2 linked regions of the Homo sapiens genome follow. The main gene of each other region encodes a partner of the protein of the gene in region 2 in a complex. Each region holds a gene or a part of one and is shown on either strand. Other genes may lie near its edges. The genes, in order: GLE1 and DDX19B.

Evidence for each region.
Region 1: the proteins of DDX19B (region 2) and GLE1 are in contact, whole or in part, in a crystal structure (PDB 6B4J), measured with the Homo sapiens proteins. Residues at the interface, in NP_009173.1 of Homo sapiens: Cys325, Asn326, Tyr328, Gly329, Ala330, Ile331, Thr332, Ile333, Ala334, Glu356, Gly357, His358, Gln359, Arg378, Arg380, Glu381, Gly382, Lys383, Glu384, Lys385, Glu400, Gln401, Ser403, Phe433, Gly434, Lys435, Arg436, Asp469, Asp470, Leu471; in NP_001003722.1 of Homo sapiens: Lys416, Lys419, Met420, Gln423, Lys424, Thr427, Ile428, Ser431, Gln432, Ile433, Ser434, Thr435, Ile436, Lys440, Gln458, Ser459, Gly460, Lys479, Lys483, Lys486, Gln487, Glu490, Glu491, Ser494, His495, Gln554, Gln562, Asn565.

What each region holds. Positions count from the first base shown.
Region 1 is NC_000009.12:128,499,537-128,509,102, forward strand, and holds the start of GLE1 (mRNA export factor GLE1), read left to right. Parts: upstream 1-5,182; 5' UTR 5,183-5,269; coding exon 5,270-5,368; exon of another isoform or gene 5,369-6,437; intron 6,438-7,679; exon of another isoform or gene 7,680-7,696; coding exon of another isoform or gene 7,697-7,804; intron 7,805-9,339; coding exon 9,340-9,561; intron 9,562-9,566. Other genes in the region: ODF2 (outer dense fiber protein 2), read left to right, coding at 531-719. UniProt on the Homo sapiens protein: Required for the export of mRNAs containing poly(A) tails from the nucleus into the cytoplasm. May be involved in the terminal step of the mRNA transport through the nuclear pore complex (NPC).
Region 2 is NC_000016.10:70,291,876-70,302,489, reverse strand, and holds the start of DDX19B (ATP-dependent RNA helicase DDX19B), read right to left. Parts: upstream 3,305-10,614; 5' UTR 3,193-3,304; coding exon 3,136-3,192; intron 1-3,135. UniProt on the Homo sapiens protein: ATP-dependent RNA helicase involved in mRNA export from the nucleus.

The sequences.
Region 1 (9,566 bases), on a different chromosome or scaffold from region 2:
TGCCCATCATGGCCTCCCAAAGTGCTGGGATTACAGGTGTGAGCCACTGCACCCAGACTCACGTTTTGTTTTGTTTTGTTTTGTTTTGTTTTAGACAGAGTTTCATTCTGTCACCCAGGCTACAGTGCAGTGGTGCTGTCATAGCTCACTGCAGCTTCAAACTCCTGGGGTCAAGTAGTCCTCCCACCCCAGCCTCCTGAGCAGCTAGGACTACAGGCGCACACCATCACACCCAGCTAATTTTTGTATTTTTTGTAGAGATAGAGTCTCACTATGTTGCCCATGCTGGTCTTGAACTCCTAGGCTCCAGTGATCATTCCGTCCTGACCTCCCGAAGTGTTGGGATTATAGGCATGAGCCACTGTGCCTGGTCTTAGAATATTTTCAGAAAGAAACCCCATACCCATTAGAAGTCACTCCACACTCGCCTCCCCAAACCTCCTGGCAACTCCTAAGAAAGTCCCTATGTCTCTATGGATTTCTATTTTGGACACTGCACAGCGGGCCCATGCTCTGTTTCTCCTCGTTAGGCGGACCGCCGCTACCAGAGCCGGCTGCAAGACCTGAAAGATCGCCTGGAGCAGTCCGAGAGCACCAACCGCAGCATGCAGAACTACGTCCAGTTCCTCAAATCATCATACGCCAACGTGTTTGGGGATGGTCCCTATTCCACCTTCCTGACTAGCTCTCCCATCCGCTCCCGATCTCCTCCTGCCTGAGGCCACTTATCAGGGCCTGGAGCCCTGATGGAAGCCATAGGAACTCCAGAGTTGCCAAGCCATAGCTGAGAAGCCTGGTGGTTTTCCTCTCCCAGTGAAAAAATGGGTTCAGGGTCTTGTCCTTAGCTACTAGCTCTAGAAAAGTCCCAAAAGCAGCAGAAGGTGAAGCAGGAAGCACTTGGTTTTCTCCTTCCTGATATAGTCACCTGTTGGAAGTGTTAAAATTTCCTCGACAGGCCTTAAATTTACTACTACATTAGGGTACCACATTTTAACTTACCATGACTTTGCTCCTTCCTTTCCTGAGAAAATATTTCCACTGGATTTTTTCCACCAGTCCCCTTACAGCCCTCATTGTTTTAGGAATCTCTCTCAGGTTTTTTCTGACCTAAACCAGCAGGAAGTCGTCCTGGGCTGTAAGCACCATCACTTGCTTTTTTTTTTTTTCTGATTTCACAAGTGTGGTGTTTTCCCAAGGCTCCCTTCCCAAGCTCAGTGCAAACCTCTCACTCCCAAGTTTCTTTGAGGCCACTTGCCCCCAAGCACTTCACAATAGACCCTCGAGGGCTTGTGTCCATTTGGCCTTTTACAAGTGTAATGCCAATTTCATTGATTTTTGTTTCTTTTGGCCTGATTTGTATCTCTGGAATGCATTTATTCTTGAAATATTTGTGTGATTTTACAAAAAGCTTTTGTAATCAGTTATTTAAGGCTCCATTTGATGATTTCCTTTACCCAACCAGTCCTCATCCCTCCTCTAAAAAATGATTAAGTAAAATGCTGCAGGACAGCCAGTAGACATTTTTAAAGTACTTGGTGCCTGAAACATCAGGCTTCTCATTTCATTTTAGCTCAGGTTGGTGCTTTCACATTGTAATCAATGAACTGTCAGGAGGGAACAAACTGTAAGAAGGATTGCTTGGTGTTTTAGGGTAGATCACTTTAGCTATTAGGAAGAGGATGGGGTAGTGTACAGTATATATTTTTAAAATGTGAATTGGTTTCTGAATAAGAATCTGGGCCATTTTTGTTCACCATTTTTGTTCGTACTGTGCTAACCTCTGCCCTTCTGATTCTAGCTAGTATTGGCCTGGGTGGTCCAGTCTTCTCACCTCTCAGCCACTCTGACTCAACTCTAGAGAATTTCTTCTCTGTTCTTTTTTCTTCTGGAGACAGGTCTCTGTCACCCACACTGAGTGCAATGGCGGGAACATGGCTCACTGCAGCCTTGACTTCCCTAGCTCAAGCAATCCTCCCACCTCAGCCTCCACAGTAGCTGAGAGCACAAGTGTATGCCACCATGCCCATCTAATTTTATTATTTTTTGTAGAGACAGATCTCACCACATTGCCCAGGTTGGTCTTGAATTCCTGGGCCCAAGTGAACCTCTCATTTTGGCCCCCCAGAGTGCTGGGATTACAGGGGTGAGCCACCACACCCAGCCTTCTCTGTGTTCTTGAATCCACCTAGGCATCTGGATTTCAAAGACCAGAAATCTCTTTTCTCTACCAAATTTTGAGGATATTTATAGTTTCCAGCTTTCAGTTTTTCCAATGAAGGTAATTCCAGCTACCACTGCCAAAAAAACTAAGCCCATTTTCATACTCTTAACGTAAATAGACAAGAACTTATAATAGGTGAAAGACCTTCCCGAGAAAGGACAATTGACAAACTTCCACCAGCATGTATATATATCTGTATAACTCATTATTATTTTTGCCAAACTAGAGAAAACCTCAGTGCAGGGCACTGCTATGTAACTCTGGTGTGAGCAACACCTCTCTTGGAGTCCCTTGCTGGGACTCTGGGGACTCTTCCAACAATTTTTCTTTTTAAAATATTTTTATTACAAGAAGTCCAGGGAATTTTTAAAAACTCAGAAAATGAAAATTGTTCACATTGCTCATACTCCAGAGAGAATTCTTCCTACCTCAAACTGAGATCTCACGAGGTGGTGGACAATGGAAGGGTCAGAAAGTCTGGGGTCCCAGTTAGAGCCGTCTCTGGACAATTGTGACTCATTCTATTTTTATTGAGATATAATTCACATAAAATTCACTCTTTTTATTTTTTTGAAACAGGGTCTCCCTCTGTCATCCAAGCTGGTGAGCAGTGGCACAATGATGGCTCACTACAGCCTCAGCCTCCTGGGTTTAAGCGATCTCCTGCCTCAGCCTTCTGAGTAGCTGGGAGCACAGGTGCATGCCACCATGCCTGGCTAATTTTTGGATTTTTTTTTTTTTTGGTAGAGGCAGGTCTCATCATGTTGTCCAGGTTGGTCTCAAACTCCTGGGCTCAAGCCATCCTCCTACCTTGGCCTCCCAAACTGCTGGGATTACAAGCATGAGCCACCATACCTGGCCTAGAATTCACCCTTTTAAAGTGTAAATATAGGCCAGGCGTGGTCACTCACACCTGTAATCCCAGCACTTTGGGAGGCCGAGGCGGGTGGATCACCTGAGGTCAGGAGTTCGAGACCAGCCTGGCCAACATGGTGAAACCCTGTCTCTACTAAAAATACAAAAATTAGCCGGGAGTGGTGGTGGACGCCTGTAGTCCCAGCTACTTGGTAGGTTGAGGCAGGAGAATCACTTGAACCCAGGAGGTGGAGGTTGCAGTGATCCAAGATCACGCCACTGCACTCCTGCCTGGGCAACACGGCGAGATTCTGTCTCGAAAAGATAAAGTGTATATATAATTCAATGGTTTGTAGTATATTCACCAAGTTGTGTAGCCATCACCATTATCTAATTCTAGACCTAGTTTTTTCTTTTTTCGAAATGGAGTCTCTCTCTGTCACCCAGGCTACAGTGCAGTGGCACCATCTCGGCTCACTGCAGCCTCTGCCTCCAGAGTTCAAGGGATCCTCCTGCATCAGCCTGTGGGGACTATAGGTGCATGGCACTTTGCCTGGCTAATTTTTGTATTTTTTGTAGAGACAGGGTTTTGCCATGTTGCCCAGGCTTGTCTGAAACTCCTGACCTCAGGTGATCTGCCCACCTTGGCCTTCCAAAGTGCTGGGATTACGGCACCCAGCCAACCAATTTCATCACTCCCAAAAAAGAAACGCCATACCCATTAGCAGTCACTCCCCATTCCCCTCCCCCAGCCCCTGGCAACTAGTCATAAAGTTTCTCTGGCTCTATAGATTTGTCTCTTCTGGATATTTCACATAAGTGGAATTGTCCAACATGTGGCCATTCATGACTGGCTTCTCTCAGCATAATGCTTTCAAGATTGATGTTGCAGCGTATCATCAGCACTTTATTTTTATGGCCCCATAACATTCCATTATATAGATGTGGTGTTTCCTCCTGCCAAACAGGGCTGGTTGGGATTCCAAAGAAGCACTATGGCCGGGCGCAGTGGCTCATGCCTGTAATCCCAACGCTTTGGGAGGTCGAGGTGGGTGGATCAACTGAGGTCAGGAGTTCGAGACCAGCCTGACCAACATGGTGAAACCCCGCCTCTGCTAAAAATACAAAATAGCTGGGCGTGGTGGCTGGCGCGTGTAGTCCCAGCTACACGGGGAGCTGAGGCAGGAGAATCGCTTGAACCCGGGAGGCGGAGGTTGCAGTGAGCCGAGATCGAGCCACTGTACTCCAGCCTGGGGGACAGAGCAAGACTCTGTCTCAAAAAAGCAGCATTAAACCCAAAACATTTATTAGGGAAGCTTACAGAGTGGGCTGCAGCAATTCTCGCGACAGACAGAGAGAAGCGGTGTTTCACCTAGGTACATCCCCAGCGAGGGGTCAGGGTATGAAGTTTATATGAGGGTTTATGGAATTTGGCTAAAAGCAGGGGTCAGTTTCAGCGTTTTGGGCAATAACCTAGATATCCTTAGTGCCTAGGGATATGCAAGGCCCGTGTTTGGTTGCAAGTCTGCAGGAAAAAACTTGCAGCTGGCTGGGTCACAGGGCGGTCAAGGCACTCTGATACTTGGTCAGTGCACAGAAAGCGGGGGAACTCGGGAACCGCGCACATAGTACTATATTTTATTTATCCATTCACCAATGGATGGACGTTTGGGTTGCTTTCACTTTTTGGCTATTATGAATAACACTGCTGTGAACATTCATGGACAAGTTTTTATATATACATAGGTTTCATTTCTTTGGCGTATTTTATATATATATATATATTTACCTAGGAGAATTGCTGGGTCAAATGGTAATTGTTTAACCTTTTGAGGAACTGCCAGACTGTCTTCCACAGCAGGTGCTTCATTTTACAGTCCCATGAGCAGTGTATGAGGGTTCCAGTTTCTGCACAGTCTCAAGGCACAGACAAATTTTCAGCAGCCCCGGGGATTGGGAGCGGTGGTTACCTCTGCGGAACGTGCCCCGACAGCCAAGCCCTGCGCGCAGGCGCACTGGTGGGAGGGCGGGAACGCGGGAGCGTCGCCGGAGGTGGGGCGTGCAGGCGTTAGGGGCGGGGCTGTGCTGCGCGCGCGTCCCGGAAGCAGAAGCCTGTGTGGCCTTCCCGGCGGCTGATTCGAGGGCTTGTTTGGTCAGAAGGGGGGCGTCAGAGAAGCTGCCCCTTAGCCAACCATGCCGTCTGAGGGTCGCTGCTGGGAGACCTTGAAGGCCCTACGCAGTTCCGACAAAGGTCGCCTTTGCTACTACCGCGACTGGCTGCTGCGGCGCGAGGTGAGCGGTGGCCCCGGAGGACGTAGGCCTTTCCGGCCCCTCGCGACCGAAACCTTCTCCCTAGCCGTTGGCACGTTCTGCTCCCGGGAACCCGTGCAGTCTAACAACCTGCATTTATTTCTTGACTTCTGTGTGTACATCCCTCTGTCCTGGGGTTTCTGTCCTCTTCAGCCTATTTTAGCGTTTCGGGGAGCTCCCCTGACTTCACAGGTGCCCCGCGCTCTGAAGGCTTCATTGCTACCCTCCGCCAGTTGGGCGCCTTCTCCGTTCTGCTGTTGTCAAAGCAATCTCGGCCCCAGGTTCAGTTAACTTACTGTATGTCTCATGTGCTGGGAGCTCTAGAGTTTGCGACGAACGATTGACACGACCTAATCCATTGCTACTAGTGAAATGACCAAATTTTTAGATTGATTTGGCAGACCTGGAAAGTGAATGGGGGCGTGGTCACCGTACCTAGCATTTGCAAAGCTCTGCGCGAGAAGTGGAGGGATGTGGAGAGTTAAGGCCGAGCTCCCATTCCCGAGTCGCTGCTAGTTAGCTACAGATAAGGCGTTGTCCTGCATCCTCAGACTTCTTGGGAAACAATCCTAAAGTATTTCCCTGTCTTTTATGTTGTTGACAGTTTTGAAAAATACAGACCTTACATTCTGTAGGTTGACTGCCAGCATATGTGCTTTCAAACCACCAGACCAAGGTTAAGCATTCTTGGCAGGAATACCACAGAAATGATGCCATGGCTTTCTCAGTAAGTCACATGAGGAGGCACACAGATGTCAACCCATCCCAACACTGGTGATGCTAATCTTGATCACCTGGTTACGTTATTATCTGCCTGGTCTCTCCGTTTAAAATTCGTCATTTTTCCCTTAGTAATTGTTGGGAAGTAATAATACCAGTATCCTTTTTTCTGGGCAAACCTTAATCCTCCATGGCTTTAGCATTCATTGATGTTTTCCACATGAATCGATACCTCTATGACGTTGCCAGATCCTGTTTCTTTATATCCGCTATTCCTTCTGCATTTGTTAGTTGGCATTCTACTGTAAGGAGGTGCTTTCTATTTTATTCAGTGAGTTGTAATCCATTACTTTTATTATTTATTTATTTTATTTTAAATGTCCCAGATTTTGTAAGCTTGTATCAAAATAATCACATGCAAGGCTAGGCGTGGTGGCTCAGGCCCGTAATCCCAGCACGTTGGGAGGCCGAGGGGGACGGATCACTTGAGGTCAAGAGTTCGCGACCAGCCTGGCCAACATGGTGAAACCGCATCTCTACTAAAAATACAAAATTAGCCGAGCATGGTGGTGCATGCCTGTAATCCCAGCTACTCGGGAGACTGAGGCATGAGAATTGCTTGAACCCTGGAAGCAGAGGTTGCAGTGAGCCGAGATTGTGCTGCTGCACTCAAGCCTGGGTGACAGAGTGAGACTGTGTCTCAAAAAAAAAAATGTAGCCTTGTAAATATGTACAACAATTATGTATTCATAAGAATTAAAAAGAAAAATGTCCCAGATTTGGCTACTGGGCACCTCATTAAGTTGGTTCCTGTGTTCCTGTGACATATTTCCATCTTTCATTGACATTTCTTTACTTTTTGACACAAAAAGATGTCCCAGGTGCAAGTTTCCCTGTCTTAATCCTGGAATCAGCTATTTCTCCAAAGAGGCTGACTCTTTTGAAGTGGAGGATGGTGCTGTATTGGCAAACCAAGATCTGGGAGTTGAGTGTGTTGAGATTCTTGATTGGGTACCATTGCTTCTAGGCCTTCTCAGTAGACAGAGCTAGGAAATAATACATATCTAAATATGTACACACATCACCACACACACATTTATGTACTGTCTATTTGTGTGTACATATATATTATAAAACCATGACTTCATACTGATAAATGCCACTTCCAACCCAGCACTTCACTTTTCTTTCTAATCTTACCCCATCCATGTTTGTAAATATGTTACCTAGCAGTGAGAAGTTTGGCTCCTGTTATTCTCAATATGTTTACTTATTTGCTCAATCAGTTTACTTTATCTCATTGTAGCAATCTCTGAACTACTCTAGTTTTTTCATTTATTTATTATATCATAGGTAATCAGTACTTATTTTCTCATACAAAGATGTTCCACGCTCATCTTATATTTTTCTGCCTCCAGTTCTGGAACTTACCTTTTCTGCAGAGACCCCTGGTTTCCTTTGATTTAAAATTATATTTACAAACCAAGATCTGGTACTAGATATGCTCATTATTACTACTAAGGGTGTATACATACATATCCATATCTATTTCTATTTTTTAAAATATTATTAGGCTGGTTGTGGTGACTCATGCCCATAATCCCAACACTTTGCGAGGCTGAGGCAGGACGAGTGCTTGAGGCCAGTTCAAGCTGGGAGCCAGGCTTGGTGTCTCACACCTGCAATCCCAGCACTTTGGTAAGTCAAGGTGGGCAGATCACTTGAGCCCAGAAGTTCGACACCAGCCTGGGCAATGTGGAGAAACCTCACCTCTACAAAAAATACAAAAAAATTAACCAGGTGTGGTGGTGCGTGCCTGTAGTCCCTGCTCCTTGAGAGGCTGAGGTGGGAGTATTACCTGAGCATGAAAAGTTGAGGCTGCAGTGAGCCGTGATCACGCCACTGCACTCCAGCCTGGGGAACAGAATGAGAGCCTGTCTCTCAAAAAAAAAAAAAAAAAAATAGTCGGGCGTGGTGGCTCACGCCTGTAATCCCAACACTTTGGGAGGCTGAGGTGGGTGGATCACCTGAGGTCAGGAGTTTGAGACCAGCCTGGCCAACATGGTGAAACCCTGTCTCTAGTAATAATACAAAAATTAGCCGGGTGTGGTGGTCGACACCTGTAATCCCAGCTGCTCGGGAGGCTGAAGCAGGAGAATTGCTTGAACCCGGGAGGTGGAGGTTGCAGTGAGCTGAGATCGTGCCACTGCACTCCAGCCTGGGTGACAGAGCAAGACTCCATCTCAAAAAAAAGGCTGGGCACACAGTGGCTCACGCCTGTAATCCCAGCACTTTGGGAGGCTGAGGCGGGTGGATCGCCTGAGGTCAGGAGTTCGAGACCAGCCTGACTAACATGGAGAAAACCCCGTATCTACTAAAAGTACAAAATTAGCCAGGCATGGTGGTGCATGCCTGTAATCCCAGCTACTCAGGAGGCTGAGGCAGGAGAATCACTTGAACCTGGGAGGTGGAGGTTGTGGTGAGCCAAGATCGTGCCATTGCACTCCAGCCTGGGCAACAAGAGCGAAACTCCATCTCAAAAAAAAAAAAAAAAAAGACCAGCCTGGGCAACATATCAAGACTCCATCTCTATAAAAAATGAAAAAATAATTAGCTGAATATAGTGGCGCATGCCTGTACTCCCAGCTGCTGGGGAGACTGGTTGAGGTGGGAGGATAGCTTGAGCCCAGGAGGTCAGGCTACAGTGAGCCATGATTAGGTCACTGCACTCCAGCCTGGGTAACAGAGTGAGACCCTGTCTCAAAAATAATTAATTTTAAAAATGAAAAAATATATACATCTAGGTTTGTGTAAGGATGCTTTACGATACTCGCACAATGACAAGATCACCTAACCCTGTGTTTCTCAGAACTTACCCCCATTGTTAAGTGACTGACATTCTACTGATTGTGTATACAGTAGCTTACTTCAGAATTCCTCGTGTTCTGTTCAGTGCTTTAGATTGCTTTCACATATGCTTTAGTGGGAATCTTTGTGCATTGTCCCTTTTTCTGTAGTTAGGGTTATTTAGTCTGATTTTCATTAGAAGGATAGTAGTCTAGGTCATTATCAAGAAACCACTGTACTTTGTTTTCATCTGATTGTTAATACATTACTTTGGGTCTTTGATGTTTATTTATTTAGGCCTTCTTAGATGTTCAGTAAGGCATGTAGTGGATTATACTGAGAACAGTTGACGTGTAAGTTGAGCTTAACCCTATTCTTTTCTCTAGGATGTTTTAGAAGAATGTATGTCTCTTCCCAAGCTATCTTCTTATTCTGGATGGGTGGTAGAGCACGTCCTACCCCATATGCAGGAGAACCAACCTCTGTCTGAGACTTCGCCATCCTCTACGTCAGCTTCAGCCCTAGATCAACCCTCATTTGTTCCCAAATCTCCTGACGCAAGCTCTGCCTTTTCCCCAGCCTCCCCTGCAACACCAAATGGAACCAAGGTAAG
Region 2 (10,614 bases):
ATATATGATTCCATTTTATGACATGTTGGAAAAGGCAAAACTATAATGACAGAAAACATATCAGCAGCTGCCAGAGAAGGGTGAGGAGAGGGAGTGAACTACAAGAAGTTGTAGTTCTTTGTAGAGAGGGTTTATGTGTTGCCTGTGGTGGTAGTTACACAACTGTATGCTTTTGTCAAAATTCATAGAACTGTACACTAACAAAGTTTAATTTTACTCTGTGTAAATTATACCTCCATAAACCTGACTTTTAAAAAAATTAAAGGGCTGGCCAGGTGTGGTGGCTCACGCCTGTAATTCTAGGACTTTGGGAGGCTGAGGCATGCGGATCACTTGAGGTCAGGAGTTCAAGACCAGCCTGGCCAACATGGTGAAACCCCACCTCTACTAAAAATACAAAAAGTAGCCAGGCATGGTGGCACATGCCTGTAATCCCAGCTACTCGGGAGGCTGAGGCAGGAGAATCGCTTGAACTCAAGAAGCAGAGGTTGCAGTGAGCCAAGATCGTGCCATTGCACTCCAGCCTGGCGGACAAGAGCGAAACTTCATTTCAAAAAAAAAAAAAAAATTAAAGGGCCAGTCCAACAGATCCAACATTCATCTAATAAGAGTTCTGGGAAAAGCTATGCAGTGGTGCGCACCTGTAGTCCCAGCTACGAGGGAGGCTGAGGCAGGAGGATCACTTGAGCCCAGGAGTTCAAGGTTGTAGTACACTATGATTCTGCCTGTGAATAGCTACTGCACTCCAAATTGGGCAACATAGACAGACACTGTCTTAAAAAAAAAAAAAAAAGAGAGAGAGAGAAAGAAAGAGAGAAAGTGAGTTCTGGAAAAGAGGGAATTAAGAAAAAACAAAGAAGAAGAAATCAGCAATGAAATTATTCAGGAAAAGTTCTCATAACTGAAGAACAAGAGTTTTTCAGATTGAAAGTACCCACACCCAGGGGCCAGTAATATGGATGAAAATACACCCATACCAAGACATATTACCATAAATTTTCTGAATATTAAAGACAAACAGAAGATTCTCCAAGCTTAGAAAGGGGAAAACAAGTCACATCAAGAATCAGGATGGTCTCAAACATTTCAACAACAAATACAGAAATCTAGAAGGCAATGGAACAATACATTTAAAATTTGGCAGGAAAATAATTTTCAACCTACAATTCTATACCCAGCCAAACTATTATCCAAATTACAGGGCAAAGTTAGATTTTTTAAGACATGGAATATTCTTAAAGTAATTTACTTCCCGTACACCTCCAGAAAGCTGACAGATGGCTGCACTAAAATAAGGAATAAATCAAGAAAGATGGAAAAGTAGGGGTACAGAAAGGAAGGGATCCAAGAGATCCAAAAGACAAGAGAAAGGAGGAAGGAATCTGCAGAATGAGGCTGAAGGGAAATTTGCCCTGTTCCCTCTATTCCCCAATATGAACTGTGCTCTAAAGACAGGAGTAACTAGTCCAATTTGAAGCAGACTTAAAGGCCTAGGAGAAATGGAATTGATAGAATACTTGATGAGTCTAAGCATCCTGAGATAAACTTAGACAACTGGAAGACAGTTTGGGGTTGAATTGATAATTAAGAAAAAAAAATGAAGCATAAACATAAGGCAATTAAGAATTCCAAGTAAAATAAATTTTATAGAAAAGTAAAGGGCCAGGCAAAGTGGCTCAGGCCTATAATCCCAACACTTTGGGAGGCCGAGGTGGGAGGATGGCTTGAGCCCAGCAGGTCAAGACCAACCTGGGTAATATAGTGAGACCTCGTCTTCACAAAAAATTAAAAAGTTAGCTGCATATGTTGGCACATGCTTGTAGTCCCGGTTACTCAGGAAGCTGAGGTGGGAGGATCACTTGAGCCTGGGAAGGGGAGGTTGTAGTTGGCAAGAGATGGTGTCAATGCACTCCAGCCTGGGTGACAGGGCAAGACCCTCTCTCAAAAAATATATGTAAAGAAAGAAAGAAACAGAAAAAAGAGGCTGGATGCAGTGGCTCACACCTGTAATCCCAGCACTTTGGGAGGCTGAGGCAGGTGGATCACTTGCACGCTGGAGTTCGAGACCAGCCTGGGCAACATGGCAAGTCCCCATCTCTACAAAAAAAATACAAAAAGTAGTTGGGCATAGTGGCACATGACTACAGTCCCAGTTACTCAGGAGGCTGAGGTGGGAGGATGGCTTGAGCCTGGGAGGCAGAGACTGCAGTGAGCCAAGATCACTCCACTGCACCCTAGCCTGGGCAACAGAGTGTGACCCTGTCTCCAAAAAAAAAAAAGGAGTTGCCTCTGGGGAGGAAAAAAATTGGCGGGAACCGTTGTTTTTAAAATAACTTCACTCTTTAAACAATGTGTATATACAACTTATTTTTTATGAGCTATAAAAAATAAAAGACAAGGTTCTTATTCTTGAGGAAGTCATAGCAATAAGTACTAACAGAAGTAGGTTCAAAGCCTACTAGGATTTAAAGTGTTTCGGTGGGAGAAATTAATTCTACGCAGTAGTGTTTAACACATCTCTTGCTTACCATGTGTCAGGTCCAGAAAAAAAGAACAAAGTGAAGCCGATGAGGAAAGGATTTGCTGACTGCCACACCTACTGGGTCCATCATTTATCACTGAGGAAGCACACAAATATGAGCAAAGACATGGTCCCTGAGCCAAAGAAGCTCTGAATGTAGAGGTGGAGAATGACACCTAAAATAACTATTACAAACCGGGGCGGCCAGGAACAATGGCTCAGCCTGTAATCCTGGTGCTTTGAAAGGCCGAGGCAGGAAGATAGCTTGAGACCAGGAGTTCCAGACTAGCCTGGGCAACCTAGCAAGACCATGTCTCTATTTCAATTAAAAACAAACAAAACACAATCTAGGGTGATGGGTGCAATCTATGATTCTTCCTGGTTCCAGGAAGACAGACAGGCAGCTGAGCGCTTTACCGATAGGAGCACTCACCTGCGCTTACGTAACGCGGAGGCGGCTGCGTAAACAAAGCCAGCTCAGGGTCCAGGCTCCATCCCTATCCTCCCCGCCACCCCATCCAGCCTCTAATCAACCTGGGAAACATTCTTTCCCAGGGACCAAGTCTCCGACCAGAACTAGTCCCCTGACCCTTTTAGGGCTGAAGCCAACTCACCGACTCAGCCGCAGCTTCCTGCTCGTCCACCGCCAGGGCCCATGAGTCAGTGGCCATGGTCCCAGGCGCGGGTGGGACGCTCGTGCTGGTGGATTCGAGGGATGGCACGAGGGATCGTGGGCTCCGGGGGTTCGCGGCAGGCTCTGCTCCAGCCCCACTACAAGGCTGCAGACCGGAAGCGGCGCGCCACAGTGACGTCGGAGGCCACTCCTGTTTGGCCACCCTTTGCCCACTTGAGGCTGTCGATTCTGTTGCCCTCAGACCCGTACCCCTCAACCCCGGGCAGAGCAAGCTTTCCTATCAAGCTGAGGTAGTTATCTTAAAATGCCTAAGCTCTGGTTAACTTGGATCTCCAACCAAAGAACAAAATCAGATTCCCGCCCAACACAGTGGCAGAGTAGGCACTAATACAGATTGAACAGATTGAATATATCAAAACAGAAAACCATTACCAATAGTCACCAAAATGCAAAACAAGCACAGAGCTGTTTCCCTTTTCAGATTGGTAATTTAAAATGTCCAGATGTTGGCAATCAGCCCTGACAACCCATTTGGTTAAAAGTCCACTTGACCACTATGCAATCTTGTTAGGCATGTAACAAAACTGCACCTGCACTCATAAATTTGTACCCCAAGAGGAGGAATTGCAGCTCTCCTATGTAAGCGTTGTAGAATCAGGAGAATGTTAAAAAGGAAGAAAACAGACGGTGCGGTGGCTCATGCATGTAATCCCAGCACTTCTGGAGGCCGAGGCGGAAGGATCACTTGAGCCCAGGAGGTCTAGGCTGCAGTGAGCCATGACAGGGCCACTGCACTCCAGCCTGGGTGACAGAGCAAAACTCTGTCTAGGAAAAAAATAAATAAAATTAAAATAGTAAAATAATTAAATAGAGCTAGGTGTGGTGGCTCATGCCTGTAATCTCAGCACTTGGGTTTTTGTTTGTTTTTTGAGATTGAGTCTGGCTCTGTCGCCCAGGCTGGAGTGCAGTGGCACGATTTCGGCTCACTGCAACCTCCACCTCCTGGGTTCAAGAAATTCTCTTGCCTCAGCCTCCCAAGTAGCTGGGATTACAAGCATGCGCCACCATGCCCAGCTAGTTTTTCTATTTTTAATAGAGATGGTGTTTCACCATGTTGGCCAGGATGGTCTCAATCTCCTGACCTCGTGATCCGCCTGCCTTGGCCTCCCAAAGTGCTGGGATTACAGGCGTGAGCCACTGCACCCGGCCTTTTGTTTTTTTAAGATAGAGACAGATCTTGCTGTGTTGTCCTGGCTGGTCTCAAACTCCTGAGCTCAAGTGATCCTCCCACCTCCACCTCCCAAAGTGCCAGGATTGGCCAGGCACAGTAGCTCACATGTGTAATCCTAGCATTTTGGGAGGTGGAGGTGGGAGGATCGCTTGAATCCAGGAGTTTGAAAACAACAACATAGCGAGGCCTTATCCTTACACAAGAAAAATTTAAAAATTAGCCAGGTGTCGTCGCACATGCCTGCAGTTCCAGCTACTTGGGAGGCTGAGGTGGGAGGATCACTTGAGCCCAGGAGGTTGAGGCTGCAGTTAGCAGTGTTTGTGTCACTGCACTCTAGTCTGCGCAACAGAGTAAGACTCTGCCTCATAAACAAATAAATAAATAGGAAGAAATATCTTGGGCTTTTAGTAGTTGTAAAATAAGGATTAAATGAAAGAACTGCTTTCTCCTAACTAGAATCAAAGAAGCTTCTCTTCCCTTGTTACTTCCCTAGAAAGAAACTAGGCATTTTCCTACAATCTGAAAAAAATGAATCCCAACCTCTTTCATTTTGCCAATATTATACAACAATAAGTTAATTTCAAGCCATGAGGCCGGGCACAATGGCTCACACCTGTAATCCCAGCACTTTGGGAGGCCAAGGTGGGTGGATCACCTGAGGTCAGGATATCAAGACCAGCTTGGCCAACATGGTGAAACCCTATCTCTACTAAAAATACAAAAATTAGCCAAGCATGGTGGTGCACACCTGTAATCCCAGCTACTTGTAAGCCTGAGGCAGGAGAATCACTAGAACCCGGAAGGCAAAGGTTGCAGTGAGCCGAGATCATGCCATCACACTGCAGCCTGGGCGACGAGTGAAACTCTGTCTCAAAAAAAATAAATAAATAGACTGGGCACGGTGGCTTGCACCTGTAATCCCAGCACTTTGGGAGGCCAAAGCAGGTGGATCACGAGGTCAGGAGATTGAGACCATCCTGACCAACATGGTGAAACCCTGTCTCTACTAAAAATACAAAAATTAGCTGGGTGTGGTGGCATGCACCTGTAGTCCCAGCTACTTGGGAGGCTGAGGCAGGAGAATCGCTTGAACCCGGGAGGTGGAGGTTGCAGTGAGCCAAGATCATGCCACTGCACTCCAGCCTGGACGACAGAGCAAGACTCTGTCTCAAATAAATACATAAATAAAAACAAACAAACAAAAATCAAGCCATGGTGGGTTCTCTGTGGAATTTTACCAGTACTGTAAGAGTAAAAACGTTTTGAGAAAGGGTAAAGCAGTTCCAGAGAACATTCTACTTGCTATGATTATTTTTTCCTGCACTCTCACAGGGTTAACTGGAGAAGACGTTTTTGTTTTTTGTTTTTGACCTTACACATGAGGATGTGCTAAAAAGAAAAAGGCAAACACCACCTTGGTAGCCATGACCTACATCTCATCAATTCAGAAGCAACCCTGGGGATATTTTCCCAGATAAATTATATTGTTTCACAGGGCTAGAGGTTAATGAAATTTGCAAAACATTTTAATGAGGTTAAAAATTACATCGCCCAAGTTGCAGGACCGTATATAGTAGGTTCACTTGTACAAAACAAACAGGAACCCCCACCCCAAAAGCCCCCAAGCTCCCATATATGCTTTTATACACTATGGAAAATGCCTAAGAAGACCGGAGCAGTGGCCTGTGTCTGCAGTCCCAGCTACTCCTGAAGCTGAGGTTGGAGGATCGCCTGAGCTCAGAAGTTCGAAGCCAGCCTGGACAACATAGTGAAACCATCGCCTCTTAAAAAAAAAAAAAATGTGGCCAGGTGCGGTGGCTCACGCCTGTAATCCCAGCAGTTTGGGAGGCCAAGGTGGTGGATCACGAGGTCAGGAGTTCAAGATCAGCCTGGTCAAGATGGTGAAACTCTGTCTCTACTAAAAATACAAAAATCAGCTGAGCATGGTGGTGGGTGCCTGTAATCCCAGCTACTTGGGAGGCTGAGGCAGAGAATTGCTTGAACCCAGGAGGCAGAGGTTGCAGTGAGCTGAGATCATGCCACTGCACTCCAGCCTGGGCAACAGAGCGAGCCTCTGTCTCAAAAAAAAAAAAAAAAATGCTTAAGATACACACAAAACTGATAACCATGGCTGCCCCTGGTGAGGGCCTCTAGAAGGGTGGGGGTGGATTGAGTATGCTTTATCCTCTGAAATTATTTTCCATATGCATGGTTTTTTTTAAATTAGAGACAGGGTCTTGCTATGTTGCCCAGGCTGGAGTGCAGTGGCTATTCACAGGCACCATTACAGCACATACTATATCCTTGAACTCCTGAGTTCAAGAGGTTCACCTGCCTCTGCTTCCCAAGTAGCTGGGACTACAGGTGTGTGCAGCTGTGCTTGGCTCCATGTTTCCCTTTTAAAAATGTATTTCAGACAAACAAGAAAGGGTATAACAAATACTTAGATTCCCACCTCAAAACTTAATAAATAAAATTACTAAGGTCCAATTGATAATCTCCGTATACTCATCCCAGGAAGACAGCAGCTATGCCAAATTTGGTGTTTATCCTTCCCGTACACGATTTTAGCATGTGTTTTTTCTTCTACTAAATAAATATGCAAGCCTGGGCAACATAGGGAGACCCCGTCTCTACCAAAAAAAAAAAAAAATTTTTTTTAAGTAGCTGGGCGTGGTGGCGTGAGCCTGTAGTCCCAGCTACTCCTGAGGCTGAGGTGGGAGGATCACTTGATCCCAGGAGTTCAAGGCTGCAGTGAGTCGTGATCATGCCACTGCACTCCAGCCTGTCTCAAAACAAAACAAAAAACAAAAAAACTTAAAAATAGCATCGGGGTTTCAGACTCTCCTAAGTTCACCCCCAATACACCTGCGCTTTGTGAGACTCCGGCTAAGAAGGAACCTGGTTTCCAAAGCGGGCGTGGAAAGAAGAGTGTTCGGGGAATAAGAGCATCTGGATTGGAATTCAGCCTCCTGCATTTATTCCCACGTGAGCCTAGCCAGTCTCAGTTTCCCCTGAAATCACAGGAAGTACCCACCTCACAGATGGCGGATTCTAGATCACAAGGCTAAGACCTTGGGCCGAAGCCTCGAGAAATATTGTTATTCCTCTACCCAGGAGTAGGGGCGAGGAAGGCACCTAAACGTGGGAGGAAAGGGTCTGGCTTCTACCCTCGCAGATACTCACGTCGCCCACAGGCAGGGTGATGGGAAACCGCCGCAGGGCGCGATCTTGGACGCGCCCGGCAGCCCCAGCCATCGCGGCTGAGCATGGCAGTTACACTCCAACAACCGCTGCTCTTGGCACTGGCCAAGCCGGAGCCTCATTGGCTGAGGCCTGGAAATCCTGTCAGCCAATCAGCTGAGGGGACGGTACAGCGCTCGGGCACGCGCCCCAGGAACTCTGGGGGCCAAAGACAAGCGCAAGCCTCCCGCAGAGGGCTTTGTTTCCTGCTAAATGTCTGGCTTCCTGGTGAGACTGGGAACTCCATGAGGGCAGGGCAAGATCTTTAATCTTGATCCTCAGTGACTAACACATAGTGGTCACTCATTTGGTGAATCATGAGCCATTAGCATCTCCCCCCGTGGGTCAAACTTTTTAAAAATTTTGCATCTGAACAAATAGGTGCAGACGCACATCCTCTAATCTAGACCCTTGGTATTCCAAGTATAATCTCTCAGCAGCATAGATATCGCCTGAAGCCTGTTAAAAATGCAGGCTCTCGGCCGGGCACGGTGGCTCACGCCTGTAATCCCAGCACTTTGGGAGGCCGAGGCGGGTGGATCACGAGGTCAGGAGATCGAGGCCATTCTGGCTAACACTGTGAAACCCCGTCTCTACTAAAAATACAAAAAATTAGCTGGGCGTGGTAGCGGGCGCCTGTAGTCCCAGCTACTCGCAAGGCTGAGGCAGGAGAATGGCGTGAACCCGGGAGGCGGAGCTTGCAGTGTGCAGAGATCGCGCCACTGCACTCCAGCCTGGGCGACAGAGTGAGACTCCGTCTCAAAAAAAAAAAAAAAAAAAAAAAAAAATTCAGGCTCTCAGGCCCTACCCCAGACCTATTCAATTTAGCAATATTTTAAGATCCTAGGTGATTCCTTTAGCGTTTTATGGTCTGAAAAGTACATTAGACAAAAAAATTATAATATGCTCAATTGAAATATTCCTTTAGAGGTTCTTAAAAATTCAGCCTTGGCCGGGCGCGGTGGCTCACGCCTGTAATCCCAGCACTTTGGGAGGCCGAGGCGGGTGGATCATGAGGTCAGGAGATCGAGACCATCCTGGCTAACAAGGTGAAACCCCGTCTCTACTAAAAATACAAAAAATTAGCCGGGCACGGTGGCGGGCGCCTGTAGTCCCAGCTACTCGGGAGGCTGAGGCAGGAGAATGGCGTGAACCCAGGAAGCGGAGCTTGCAGTGAGCCGAGATTGCGCCACTGCAGTCCGCAGTCCGGCCTGGGCGACAGAGCGAGACTCCGTCTCAAAAAAAAAAAAAAAAAAAAAAAAATTCAGCCATCCCCATTTGACTTAGTACCAAATAAGCCAGCATTGTAAACCCATTTTATAGATGCTAAAAGTAGCTAAGATGCCATGGGAGAGTTAAGAGTCTAGCGCTACATCCTTCCAAAGCTATGTTAGTTTTTTTTTTTTTCCACTTGTTTCCATTTCTTTCTTTTTTTTTTCAATTGAGACACTGTCTCATTCTGCCACCCAGGCTGGAGTGCAGTGGCACGATCATGGCTTACTGCATCCTTTACTTCCCTGTCTCAAGCTATCCTCCCACCTCAGCCTCCTGAATAGCTGGGACTACAGATGCATGCCACCATGCCCAGCTAATTTTTGTATTTTTTTGTAGAGGTTGAGTTTTGTCATGTTGCTCAGGCTAGTCTCAAACTCCTGGGCTCAAGCCATCCACCCACCTCAGAATCCCAAAGTATGGTGATTAAAGGTATACGCCATCACGCCGGCCTGTTTCTGTTTGTTGTTTTTATTATTTTTTAAATTTAATTTAATTTAATTTTTTTGAGACAGAGTTTCCCTCTTGTCTCCCAGGCTGGAGTGCAGTGGCACAATCTTGAGTCACTGCAGCCTCTGCCTCAGCCTTCTGAGTAGCTGGGATTACAGGTGGCCGCCACCACACCCAGATAATTTTAGTATTTTTAGTAGAGATGGGGTTTCACCAGGTTGACCAGGCTGATTTTGAACTCCCAACCTCAGGTGATCTGCCCGCCTCGGCCTCCCAAAGTGTTGGGATTACAGGCATGAGCCACTGTGCCTGGCCTGTTGTTTCACTCTGCGGCCCAGGCTGGAGGGTAGTGGGGCAATCACAGCTGTTGTACTATTTCAGTTCTTTGGTTATCTTTCTCATGCCCCAAGATGGAGTTCAACAAATGTTCTACTGGAGAGCAAGCCATGTGCATATCGCTCACTCCCACCTACAGGCCTATTTGCTTAGCCTAGAGTAAATCAAGAACTTGCCAGTAGTTTCCTAAAATACATAATTTGCACATTGCATTAAGATAGCATTCTTTCTAGCATGTAGTTGACATCTACAAGAGAAAAATATCACAGAAAAATATCATTAGATAATTATATTAGAATGAGACTTTTGGGCCTCAATTACAATTTCTTTCTTTTTTTTGTTTTAAGAGACAAGGGGGCCGGACGCGATGGCTCACGCCTGAAATCCCAACACTTTGGGAGGCCAAGGCAGGCGAATCACCTGAGGTCGGGAGTTCAAGACCAGCCTGGCCAACATGGCGAAACCCTCATCTCTACTAGAAATAGAAGAAAAAAAAATAACTGGGCGTGGTGGTGGCGCCTGTAATCTCAGCTACTCGGGAGGCTGAGCCAGGAGGCAGATGTTGACATGAGCCGAGATCATGCCATTGCACTCCAGCCTGGGCAACAAGAGTGAAACTCTGCCTCAAAAAAAGGAAAAAAAAAGAGAGAGAGACAAGGGTCTTGCTTTGTTGCCCAGGCTGGAGTGCAGTCGCGAGATCTCAGCTCACTGAAGCCTTCAGCTTCTGGGCTCCAAGTGATTCTCCTTCCTCAGCCTCTTGAGCAGCTGGGACTACAGGCGAATGCCACCACGCCTAGCTAATTAAAAAGAATTTTTTTTTTTTAACAGAGTCTCACTATGTTGCCTAGGCTGGTTTCAAACACTTGGGCTCCATTGATCCTCCTGCCTTGGCCTCCCAAAGTGTTGGGATTACAGGTGTGAGTCTCT